2 separate regions of the Homo sapiens genome follow, and region 1 is linked to region 2. The links come from fine-mapping of genetic effects on gene expression. A gene starts in region 2. The other region holds a variant in brackets. All regions are shown on one strand. Distances are between the middles of the regions. Region 1 has its middle 550 kb from the start of SQOR. Region 2 holds the start of COXFA4L3 (cytochrome c oxidase associated subunit FA4L3).

The links. PIP is the estimated chance that this variant, and not a neighbour inherited with it, causes the effect.
Region 1: its variant is fine-mapped to the expression of COXFA4L3 in whole blood (GTEx, PIP above 0.99).

Annotation. Positions count from the first base shown.
Region 1 is chr15:46,177,897-46,183,286 of GRCh38, forward strand. No RefSeq gene overlaps it. Among named protein-coding and RNA genes, the nearest start is that of SQOR, 550 kb to the left of the region's middle. The variant T/C (reference allele first, on the strand shown) is at 2,679.
Region 2 is chr15:45,427,382-45,432,753 of GRCh38, forward strand. COXFA4L3 (cytochrome c oxidase associated subunit FA4L3) reads left to right here and starts at 3,229. Exons shown (of 5, transcript NM_197955.3): 1 at 3,229-3,274; 2 at 3,389-3,451; 3 at 3,620-3,705; 4 at 4,691-4,751. The coding sequence starts at 3,416. RefSeq lists a silencer at 3,172-3,251.

The DNA.
Region 1 (5,390 bases), 750 kb after region 2:
CAAACCAACATTTAATGTTGAATCACAGAAAACAGCCTGAACAGAAGTTTGACGAAAAAAGAAATCAATCATAGGTTTTTTTTTTTTTTTTAATTCCTTATAGCCTAGCAATATTCTACTAAGTCATACCAGAGCTGTACCCCACCCCGCCTCTACTCCCCAAACTTTCTGTTAGGAAGGGGACTTGCATCAGCTTTGATCTGCCTGGACTTCATGTGTAATTCCTTGTCTATAGCTATTTTATCTCCAAATATTATGACTGCTATAGCCTTTTAATTTTGGTTTCTTAGTTAATGAGTCTTTTGCAAAAGAAATTAGTTTAGTGGATTATTTGCTCACTACATATTGGCCTCTATACTCAGTGTAGCTTGACAGCATTGCCAGTGATGAATCTGTTATAGATTCAGGAATGTCAGTTCCCAAGGAAGCAATGCTATTAGACAGGATCACTTTGTTGGAGAGCTACAAAATACTCTAGTGAAGCTAGACAAAATGAATTTATCTTATGGCAACAAAATTGTAGGGTTTTACTGTAATAATTCTTTGAACTCTGCAAGGAAAACCATTATTTCTGGAATGAAACCACATGATGTCGCTTGATGGGAATGGGGAAATCAGGCCCTAGATTTTACCTTATAACCAGTGCGTCAAACATTTGCTTCGACTATGGCAGTTGTTAATGTTGTAAAGCAGCTTATAAGCTCCTAATAATCCTGAGGTGGGTTACAGAAATTTGAAAGTCAGAAGAGGCAAGTGTCACAGCATTGCGAATTTCAAGAATACTTTTTCGTATTTCTGTGAAAATTTTCATTAGAATTTTGATAGGGGTTAGATTGCTTTGGGGTAGTATGACCATTTTAACAATATTCACTCAATCCTTGAACATGGAATATCTTTTCATTTTTTGGGTCTTTAATTTCTTTTATTAATATTTATTGTGTTCAGTATGCAGATCTTTCACTTCCTTGGTGAAATTTACTCCTAAGAATTAAATTTTATTTTCGATGTTATTGTAAATGAGATTGTTTTCTTAATTTATTCACTGTTAGCATATAGAAACACTACTGATTTTTGCATGTTGATTTTGTATCCTGCAACTTTACTGAATTTGTTCATTTGTTCTAACGGTTTTTGGTAAGGTCTTCAGGGTTTTCTGTATATAATATGTCATCTGCAAACAGAAGATTTTAATTCTCCCTTTCCAATTTGGAAGCCTTTTTTTTTTTTCTTTTTCTTACCTAATTGCTCATGCCAGGACTTCTAGTAATACATTGAACAGAAGTGGTGAGAGTGGGGATCCTTGTCTTGTTCCTGATTTTAGGGGAAATACTTTCAGGTTTTCACTGTTAAATATTAGGCTAGTGGTGAGTTTGTCATATATGGCCTTTATTATGTTGAGGTACAAGTCTTTCTGTACCTAATTTGTTGAGAATTTATGTCATAAATGATGTTGAATTTTGTCAAATGCTTTTTCTTTATCAGATGATCATATAAATTTTATACTTCATTTTGTTAAAGTGGTGTATTGCATTTATTGATTCGTGTATGTTAAAACATCATCGCGTTCCAGAAATAAATCCCACTTGATCATATACTATGATTGCTATAATGTCCTGTTTAATTCATTTTGCTAGTATTCTGTTGAGGATTTTTGTGTGTATACTCATCATGGATAGTGGCTTATAACTCTTTTTTTTCTGTAGTGTCCTTGTCTGGCTTTAGTATCAGGATAATGCTGGCCTTCTAAAATGAATTTGAAAGTATTTCCAGTCATCATGTTTGGGGAACAGTTTGAGAAGGATCAGCATTAATTATTTGAATGTTTGATAAAATATGCGAGTGAAGTCCCCAGGTCCTGAGAGTTTCTTTGTTGGGAGATTTTTGATTATGGATTCAATCTCCCCACTCATTTTTGGTCTTCTCAGATTTTCTTTTTCTTCATGATATCTTGGTAGGTTGTATGTTTCTAGGAAATTTTCCATTTCATCTATGTCATTCAATTTGGTGGCATATAATTGCTCACAGTAGTCTCTTATGATTCTTTGTATTTCTGTGATAGTAGTTGTGATATCTCCTCTTTTATAATTTTACTTGAGTCTTCTTTGTTTACCTATTTAGTCTAGCTAAAGGTTTGTCAATTTTATTTTTAAAAAACTCAGTTTCATTGATTTTTTTCCCATTATTTTTCTCGTGTCTTATTTCTGCTCTGGTCTTTATTATTTCCTTCCTTCTGCTGACTTTGGTCATAGTTTGGTCTTTTTTATAGTTCTTAAGGTATAAATTTAGGTTGTTTCTTTGAGATTTTTCTTTCTTCTTTAATACAGGCATTTATACAAACTTCCTTCTGAACTGCTTTTGCTAAATACCAAAAGTTTGGATATAGTGTTTTCTATTTTATTTGTCTTAATATATTTTTTATTTCTCTTTTTTTTGACCCATTGATTGTTCAGGAGTATATTTTTAATTCCATGTATTTGTGAATTTCCAATCTTCTTCCGAGTATTGATTTCTAGTTTCATGCCACTATAGTTGGGAAGAAAACTTGATATAATTTCAGTCTTCTTAAATTTGTTAAGACATTTTTGTTGCCTAACATGATCTAACCTGGAGAATGTTTCATGTGTACTTGGAAAGAATTTTTTCTGTTGCTGTTTGATGGAATGTTCTTTATATATCTG[T/C]TAGGGCCATTTGGTCTATAGTGTTGTTTAAGTCTGCTGTTTTCTTATTGATTTTCTGTCTGGATGATCTGTCCATTGCTAACAGTGAGGTATTGAAGTACCCTACTATTATCGTATTGCTGTCTATTTCTCCCCTCAGTTATATTAATATTAGCTTTATAAATTAAGTGCTCCAATGTTGGGTGACATATATTTGAAATTGTTACATCCTTTTGATAAACTGACACTTTTATTGCTATATAATGCCCTTGTTTCTTGTTACAGTTTTGGACTTCACTTTTATATTGTCTGATATTAATATAGCTACCCATGCTCTCTTTGGGTTATGATTTGCATAGAATATCTCCTTCTATCTATTTACTTTCAGCCTATATTTGTTCTTAAACCTAAAAATGACTATCTTATAGGCAGCATATAGCTGGATCTTTTTTAAAGATTCATTTAGCTACTGTATGAATGGGTAATTTTTGATTGGGTAACTTATGTGTGGCATAAATCACTTTTGCTTACTCAATGTGTTCTTTAATTCCTGGGTAGCTCTTTGATTCTTTTGATTGGGTAATTTGTTTAAATTTAATGTAATTTTTGGTAGGAAATAACATCCTATTCCATTTTTTTTTTAATGTTTTGTAGTTCCTTTGTTCTATTCTTCCTCTCTTGGTGTCTGTTAGTCTGTTTTGTGCTGCTGTGAAAGAATAACAGAAGCTGGGTAATTTATAAAGAAAAGAGACTGGTTTTCCCCATAGTTTGGAAGACGGTATAAGATGCATGCCACCAGCAGCATCTGCTCCTGGTAAGGGCTTATGGGAGCTTCCAGTCATATTGAGAGGTGAAAAGAACCAGTGTGTCACATGGAAAGAGAGGGAGCAAGGGAGGGGGGAAGGGTGTGCCAGGCTTTGAAAAACAACAAGCTCTTCCTTGAACTCATAGAGTGGCAACTCACTCATTATTGCAAGGACAACGCTAAACCATTCATGAAGGATGTGCCCTTCTGACTTAAACACCTTTCACTAGGCCTTACTTCCAACATTAGGGATCAAATTTCAACATGAGATTTGGAGGGGACAAATATCCAAACTGTATCAGTGTCTTACTTTGTAATTTATTTATTTCTAGCGGCTTTCTTTGATTTCTTTATCTGTTGCATATCTACTTTAGTTTTTCTTTGTGGTTACCCTAAAGCTCACAGAAATATCTTTTATAGTATTGGGTAACCATATTTTAAACTGATAAGCAACTTAACTTTGACTGTGTACAAAAACTCTATACTTTAACTTCTCCTCCCCTCACTTTTTATGTTTTTATTTCACAATTTACATCTTTTTATACAATCTTCCCATTACCACAGTTATTGTGCCTAGAATTATTTTTGTTTTTTAGCTTTTATAACACAATAAAAGTGATTAATACCAAACATAAGTAATACAGTATCAGAGTAATCTGAATTTGATAATACTCCTATTTTTACTTTGCATTTTATATTTTAATCTGTTTTTGTGTTGGTAGCATCCTTTCGTTTAACCTGGAAAAACTTCCTTTGGCATTTCTTATAAGGCAGATTTAGTGATGGTGAAATGCCATAGCTTGTGTTTGTCTGAGGAAGTCCTTATCTTGCCTTCATTTTGGAAGGACAGCCTTCTGTATATAGTAGTCTTAATTGACAGTTGTTTTCTTTCACGGTTGGAATATATCATCCCATGTCCGCCTGGCCTGGATGGTTTCCACTGAAAATCTGCTGATGGTCTCATGAAAGTTCCTTTGTGTGTGATGAGTTACTTTTCTCTTACTGCTTTCAAGATTCTTTGTCTTTGACAATTTTATGATGTCTGAGTAAAGATTTCTTTATATTTGAGGTTCTTTGGGCTTCATGGATCCATTTGTATATTCATCTCTCCAGATTTGGGAAGTTTTCTGTCACTATTTCTTCACATAAGCTTTTTGCCCCTATCTCTTCATCTGCCCCTTTGGGACGTAATGTATGCTTTGGCTGGTTTGATGGTGTCCTGTAAGCCCTGTAAGCTTAGTTTACTCTTTCATTCTTTCTTCCCTTGGTCTCATTGGGTAATTTCAAGTGACCTGTCTTCAAGCTGACAGATTCTTTTTTCTGCTTTATCAAGTCTTCTGTTGAAGCTCTCAATGAAATTTTTTAGTTTGTTCACTCTGTTCTTTAGCTCCTGAACTTTGTTTCTTTTTTAATTGTTTCTCTTTGTTGAATTTCTTATTTTTTCTTGTGAACTATACATTTTGTTTAGTTTTCTATATGTGCTCTCCTGTAGCTCACTGAGTTTCTTGAAGATAATTTAAATTATTTGTCAGGCAGTTTGTACATTTCTTTAGGGCTAAGTACTGATTCTTTATCTTTTTTTTTTCCTTTGGCAGTATGTTTCCCAGTTTATTCATAATCTGTGTGGCTTTGCATTGGTGTCTGCGCATTTGAAGAAGTAGGCATCTATTCCAGTTTACATCCTGGTTTTGGCAGGGAAAGCCCTTCTCCACTCAGTGTCCAGAGATTCTGGGAAGGGCATCTGGCAGAATCTGCAGGTCGGGTTGTGGCTGCAGCCCTTCAGCAGGCTGTCCTGGCCACTGGATTAGCAGGTAGGCTGGTCTGGCACCTGGGTCCTTAGAGGATGGCCTAGTACCTGGATCCACCAGAGCAAGACTGGAACTTGGGTCCCCTGTGGCAGGCCTGTTTCCTGGGTCCAATGGCTGCTG
Region 2 (5,372 bases):
CCACCCACCTTGGCCTCCCAAAGTTCTGGGATTACAGGCGTGAGCCACCGCACCTGGCCTAGTTGAAATATTTTAAAGTAAATCCCAGACATCATAATATTTCTCCCTTAAATATTTCCACATACAAGCTCTGAAAAAGGGAGAGGCCATTTAAAAAATATAATCGCCGGCCAGGCGCGGTGGCTCACACCTGTAATCCCAGCACTTTGGGAGGCCAAGGCGGGCTGATCACGAGGTCAAGAGATTGAGACCATCCTGGCCAACACGGTGAAACCCCCTCTCTACTAAAAATACAAAAATTAGCTGGGCATGGTGGCGGGCGCCCATGGTCTCAGCTACTCGGGAAGCTGAGGCAGGAGAATTGTTTGAACCTGGGAGGCAGAGGTTGCAGTGAGCCGAGATATATATATATTGCAGTTATTGCAGTTATATATATATTGCAGTTATATATATATATAAACTGCAATACTATTATCACACCTAAGAAACTTAACAATATCCCTTTAATATCATCTAATGTCTGGATCCTATTTAAGTTTCCCACTTGCCCCCAAAATGTCTTTTTACAGTTGATTTGTCTTTTTGTATATTCAAATAAATACCCCACCTTTGGTAAGTTTTCTCAGACCCCCTTAGTTAGAATTAATCACCTGTCTTGGCAACAGATCATGCCTTGCATTAGAGTTATTTAGAGTTACTAAATTGCAAGCACCTTGAAGTAAGTGATTTGTGTCTTACTACTCTTTTTAATTCTGCTATGCCCCCATCCTCAGAATAATGCCTAGACTACTAAAAAACTGCATTACATTTTGAAAAGAAATGATACTGGCAAAGCACGGCTCTGTGTTTAAGGTCATTAATAGGCAATGGCTACACATTTTTAATTTCAATTTTGGGCTCATGAAATACTAATGTAAAATTTATTTCTTCTTCTTCTCTCTCTCTTCGTCCTGTTTCTCTTTCTCTCTCCCTCCCTTCCTTCCATCCTAGAAAAACTTCTGTTTCTTAATAACATGAGGTTTTTTTGTAGAATCTTCTGACAGAAGTAGCCTTAGAAGTCTTTCATTAAAAGGCTTCTCTGATTCTAGGTAATACAAACCAAGGAGAATTAATGTTGAATTTTCTTTGAAGTATATAACGTAGATCCATCCAATTAGCAAATGTCTCTAGTTACAGTTCTGGGGTTAAACAGTAAGAACGCTTGCCAGAGTAAGGGAGTGGGAAACTACATTTATGATCAGCCTTACATAAAACAAATCTTTGAGGCTGGGCGTGGTGGTTCACACCCATAATCCCAGCACTTTAGGAGGCTGAGGGGGGCGGATCACCTGAGGTCAGGAGTTCAAAACTAGCCTGGCCAACGTTGCAAAACCTGTCTCTACTAAAAATACAAAAATTAGCGGGGCGTGGTGGCACATGCCTGTATTCCCAGATGCCCAGGAGACTGAGGCATGAGAGTCGCTTTAGCCCATGAAGCAGAGGTTGCAGTGAGCCGAGATCACACCACTGCACTCCAGCCAGGGTGACAGAGCGAGACTCTGGCTCAAAAAACAAAACAAACAAAAAACCAAATCTTTGCATATAGTAACTATTTGTTGAGTGCCTACTACAAGCAGGACAGAATGCTTTACATATATTCTAACATTTTTTCCAACTCTCTCCCCTGCCAGGTTTGCCCCCATTTTGCAGATATATAAACTGAAACTCATGAAGGTTAAGTAGTTTACTTAAAGTCAGCTATTAATAATAAGTATAGCAGGGGCAGGCTCTGAACTCAGGTCCATTTGACTACAAAACCCAGGTTTAGAATGAAAATGGGGTTGAAACACAGCAGGGTCTAGCCAATTTCAGGGAACGTTAAGATGTTGCCTTTTAACTTTAACTTACAGCTTGAACTTCAAACTGTTTGTTTTAAAATAACTGGTCCTTTACTTATTGCAGTATTTAACAGAGGGGTGCAGACAGAACCATGGTGTTGGGCACCAGACAGACCTGCGTTCTGATGGCATCGCCGCCACTTACCAGTGACGTGACCAGAGCCTCTCTGAGTCTTAATAAGACTTTGCACCCACCTTGCCGAGGGGAATCTGGCTCAGTGTCTGGCACACACACAGCCCCTGGCTCTGTGAAATTGTTACCATTGCAGCCGCCTGCAAACTGCAAAGTGAGGTTGCTGGCTTAGAGGAGAGTTAGGAGGGAACCCAAAGACTAAACCAGCCGGCAGGGTCGTTTGCAGAAAGACCTTCTCCTGACAGCCTCCCCAGCTTATTCTTTTGTTTGTTCTCCCTCGACCTCGGGTTTTTGTTTTATTGTGTTTATTTGTTTGTTTTTGTTTTTTTGGGTTTTTTTTTTAGCAGAAAAAGTCAGGACGCCCTGGGAGTTATTCTGAAATAAACTTTACAATTTAATTTTAATGATCTCCATAGGTGCACAGACCACATTTTGGAGCTTTTAATGTGATTGGATTAATTCTAATTTACCCGCCTGCACCTGGGAGCCTCTCCTGGGACCCTCCGGTCTGCAGCTCATTTTTCCGGACCCCCTTTTATTGTTTATTTGCTTATTTAAATATTTTGTTTTATTCTATTTTATTTAAAACAGGGTCTCGCTCTGTTGCCCAGGCTGGAATACAGTGGTGTAATCTTGGCTCACTGCGACCTCAAAGGCCTGGACTCAAGCGATTCTCCTGCCTCGCCCTCCTCAGTAGCTGGGACTGCAGGCATGCAGCACCACGCCCGCTAATTTTTTTTAGTAGAGACGTGGTTTCGTCACGTTGGCCAGGCTGGACTCGAGTGATCCTCCTGCCTCAGCCTCCCAAAGTGTTGGGATTACAGTCCTAAGCCACCGCGCCAGGCCCGGATACCCTTTTAGAAGGGTTGGCTTTCCCTCAGGCCTCGGCTATCTGCGCTCCCCTCTTAGGGGGTTCCACCTCCTACTCCCCAAACCTCCAAACTCCTCACAAGCACCTAGGGGGGCCAAGAGCGACCGGGGTCGGCAGGTAAGGAAGACCGCGGCGAGCGGCAGGGGGCGCCAGCGCCCGCGTTCGGGCGCTTCACGTCAGCCGCAGAATGTCCTGCAGGGGGCGCCCGGGAGTCGCGTGCCCAACGGGGAAAGCGAGTCAGGTCCCTCGCGCTCCCCGCCCCACGCGCGTGACCAGAGCGCGCTGGCCCGGCCCACCCGGGGCGGTTGTGGTCGCTATATATAAGGTGGGGAGGCCGCCGGCCCGTTCGGTTCCGGGCGTTACCATCGTCCGTGCGCACCGCCCGGCGTCCAGGTGAGTCTCCCATCTGCAGAGACGCGGACGCGCCGGCCCGCAGTTGGCCTGCGGAGCGCGGTGGACGGTTTGGCGCCCACCAGGCGATCAATACTTTGGATTTTTAATTTCTAGATTTGGCAATTCTTCGCTGAAGTCATCATGAGCTTTTTCCAACTCCTGATGAAAAGGAAGGAAGTAAGTTTTAAAAACAATTGAAAATCTTGACTAAAGTTTTCATTTTTAAAGATGAAAAGATGGCACAGATTTTGAACAAAGTATAAAATAAATACAGTTGTTTTGCTGTGTTTCAAATGTTTCATATTGAAGTGTCCAAATGTGTCCCCTCCACCTGTTATTTGTTAGCTCATTCCCTTGGTGGTGTTCATGACTGTGGCGGCGGGTGGAGCCTCATCTTTCGCTGTGTATTCTCTTTGGAAAACCGATGTGATGTAAGTAGGTCTCAATTTATAAAAACGTTTTTGGCAGTGTTTGGATGACTTTTAGTTTATGAAATGTATAAGTTTCCTATTTTTTTCCCATGGATGAGAATGCCAAATTGTGAACTGGGAGTCAGGGTTAAAAAGCATCTTTTATCAGAAAACTCTTATGATATTGTCTACCAATGGGTCAGAAAATGAAAATTAGAAAAAAAAAAGAAAAAATTTAAAAAAACCCATGATATTAATCAAATTAGTTTATTTCTTGTGTTTATTCTTTTACCCATTGGCCCTTCTCCACTCTCTGGCAGTGAAGTAAAGCTTGTTTTTTTTTTTTTAAGTTTTGAAATTTAAAGTTCTTCAGTGGTTTTGGGAGATATATATCATGAAACAATCATTTTAATTAAAATTTTAAATTTTAGCTTATTAGATTTTTACTAATGTGGTAGAATTGATAGATTCAGTTGTCTACGATGAACCTAATCTCAACTTTGGGTAGAAGAAAGTAAAAAACAAAAACATGTATCCTGGAATATGAGGAAAAGATAAACTTGAAACTGTTGGAGGCTGGTGCAGGGCTGGAGAGGGCAGTCCTCTAACCGCTGGCAGAGGAGCCTAGAGCCCTGGAGTTCACCACCTGCAGAGTTCAACCTGCCCCTCCCACAGACTGAGATAAGAACATTATTGCATGTCCTTGGCTTGGCAGTTTCACTCCCATGGTTATTTGGTTTGTGGGATCCTTCCCCAATGCAGCCCAATCAAGAGAATACAGACCTCCTACCCTTTAGGGGAACTGATGTTTAATGTTTGAGCCACACCATGAAACTCCCTTAGAGAATTTTCAATCAATTTTAGTTGCTACTGATGGTTCCTGATCATTAGCAGACACATGCCTTAGTATGAGACTGGTTTTGTCCCTAACATGTTTATAAACCCAGTATCAGTGTTGGTTTAAATTCACATCTTTTAATGTTTAATTGGCTTTCTTTAATTTTAGCCTTGATCGAAAAAAAAATCCAGAACCTTGGGAAACTGTGGACCCTACTGTACCTCAAAAGGTATTGTTAAATTAAAAACAAATGATTTATATTTTGCCCAAACCTTAGCACCTTTGTGAGCAAAATAGATTTAGTACCTTACCCTTATTGTGTAACTTAGATCAATTGTGCCTTCATCGAGTAATTAAAATGAGGAAATTTTAAGAGCCTACTCTATGCCAGGAGCATTGTCCATCCACTCATGAGAAGCATATACACTTTTGGAACTATGGCTCACATAATACCTGGCAAACTTAAAAATCTGGATACCGGCCAGGCACGGTGTCTCACACCTGTAATGCCAACACTTTGGGAGGCCGAGGCGGGTGGATCACTTGAAGTCAGGAGTTCGAGACCAGCTTGGCCAACATGGTGAAATTCCATCTTTACTAAAAATACAAAAATTAGCTGGGTGTAGTAGAACGCACCTGTAAACCCAGCTACTGGAGAGGCTGAGGCACGAAAATTGCTTGAACATGGGAGGCGGAGGCTGCAGTGAGTTGCAGTTGTGCCACTGCACTCCAGCCTGGGCAACACAGCAAGACTGTCTTAAAAAAAAATCTGGATACTGCTAAGTGAAAGTAGGGCACATGTGTTTGATCTTTCCCTCTGATCTCATAACACTTAGGAGCCCAAGGGCTT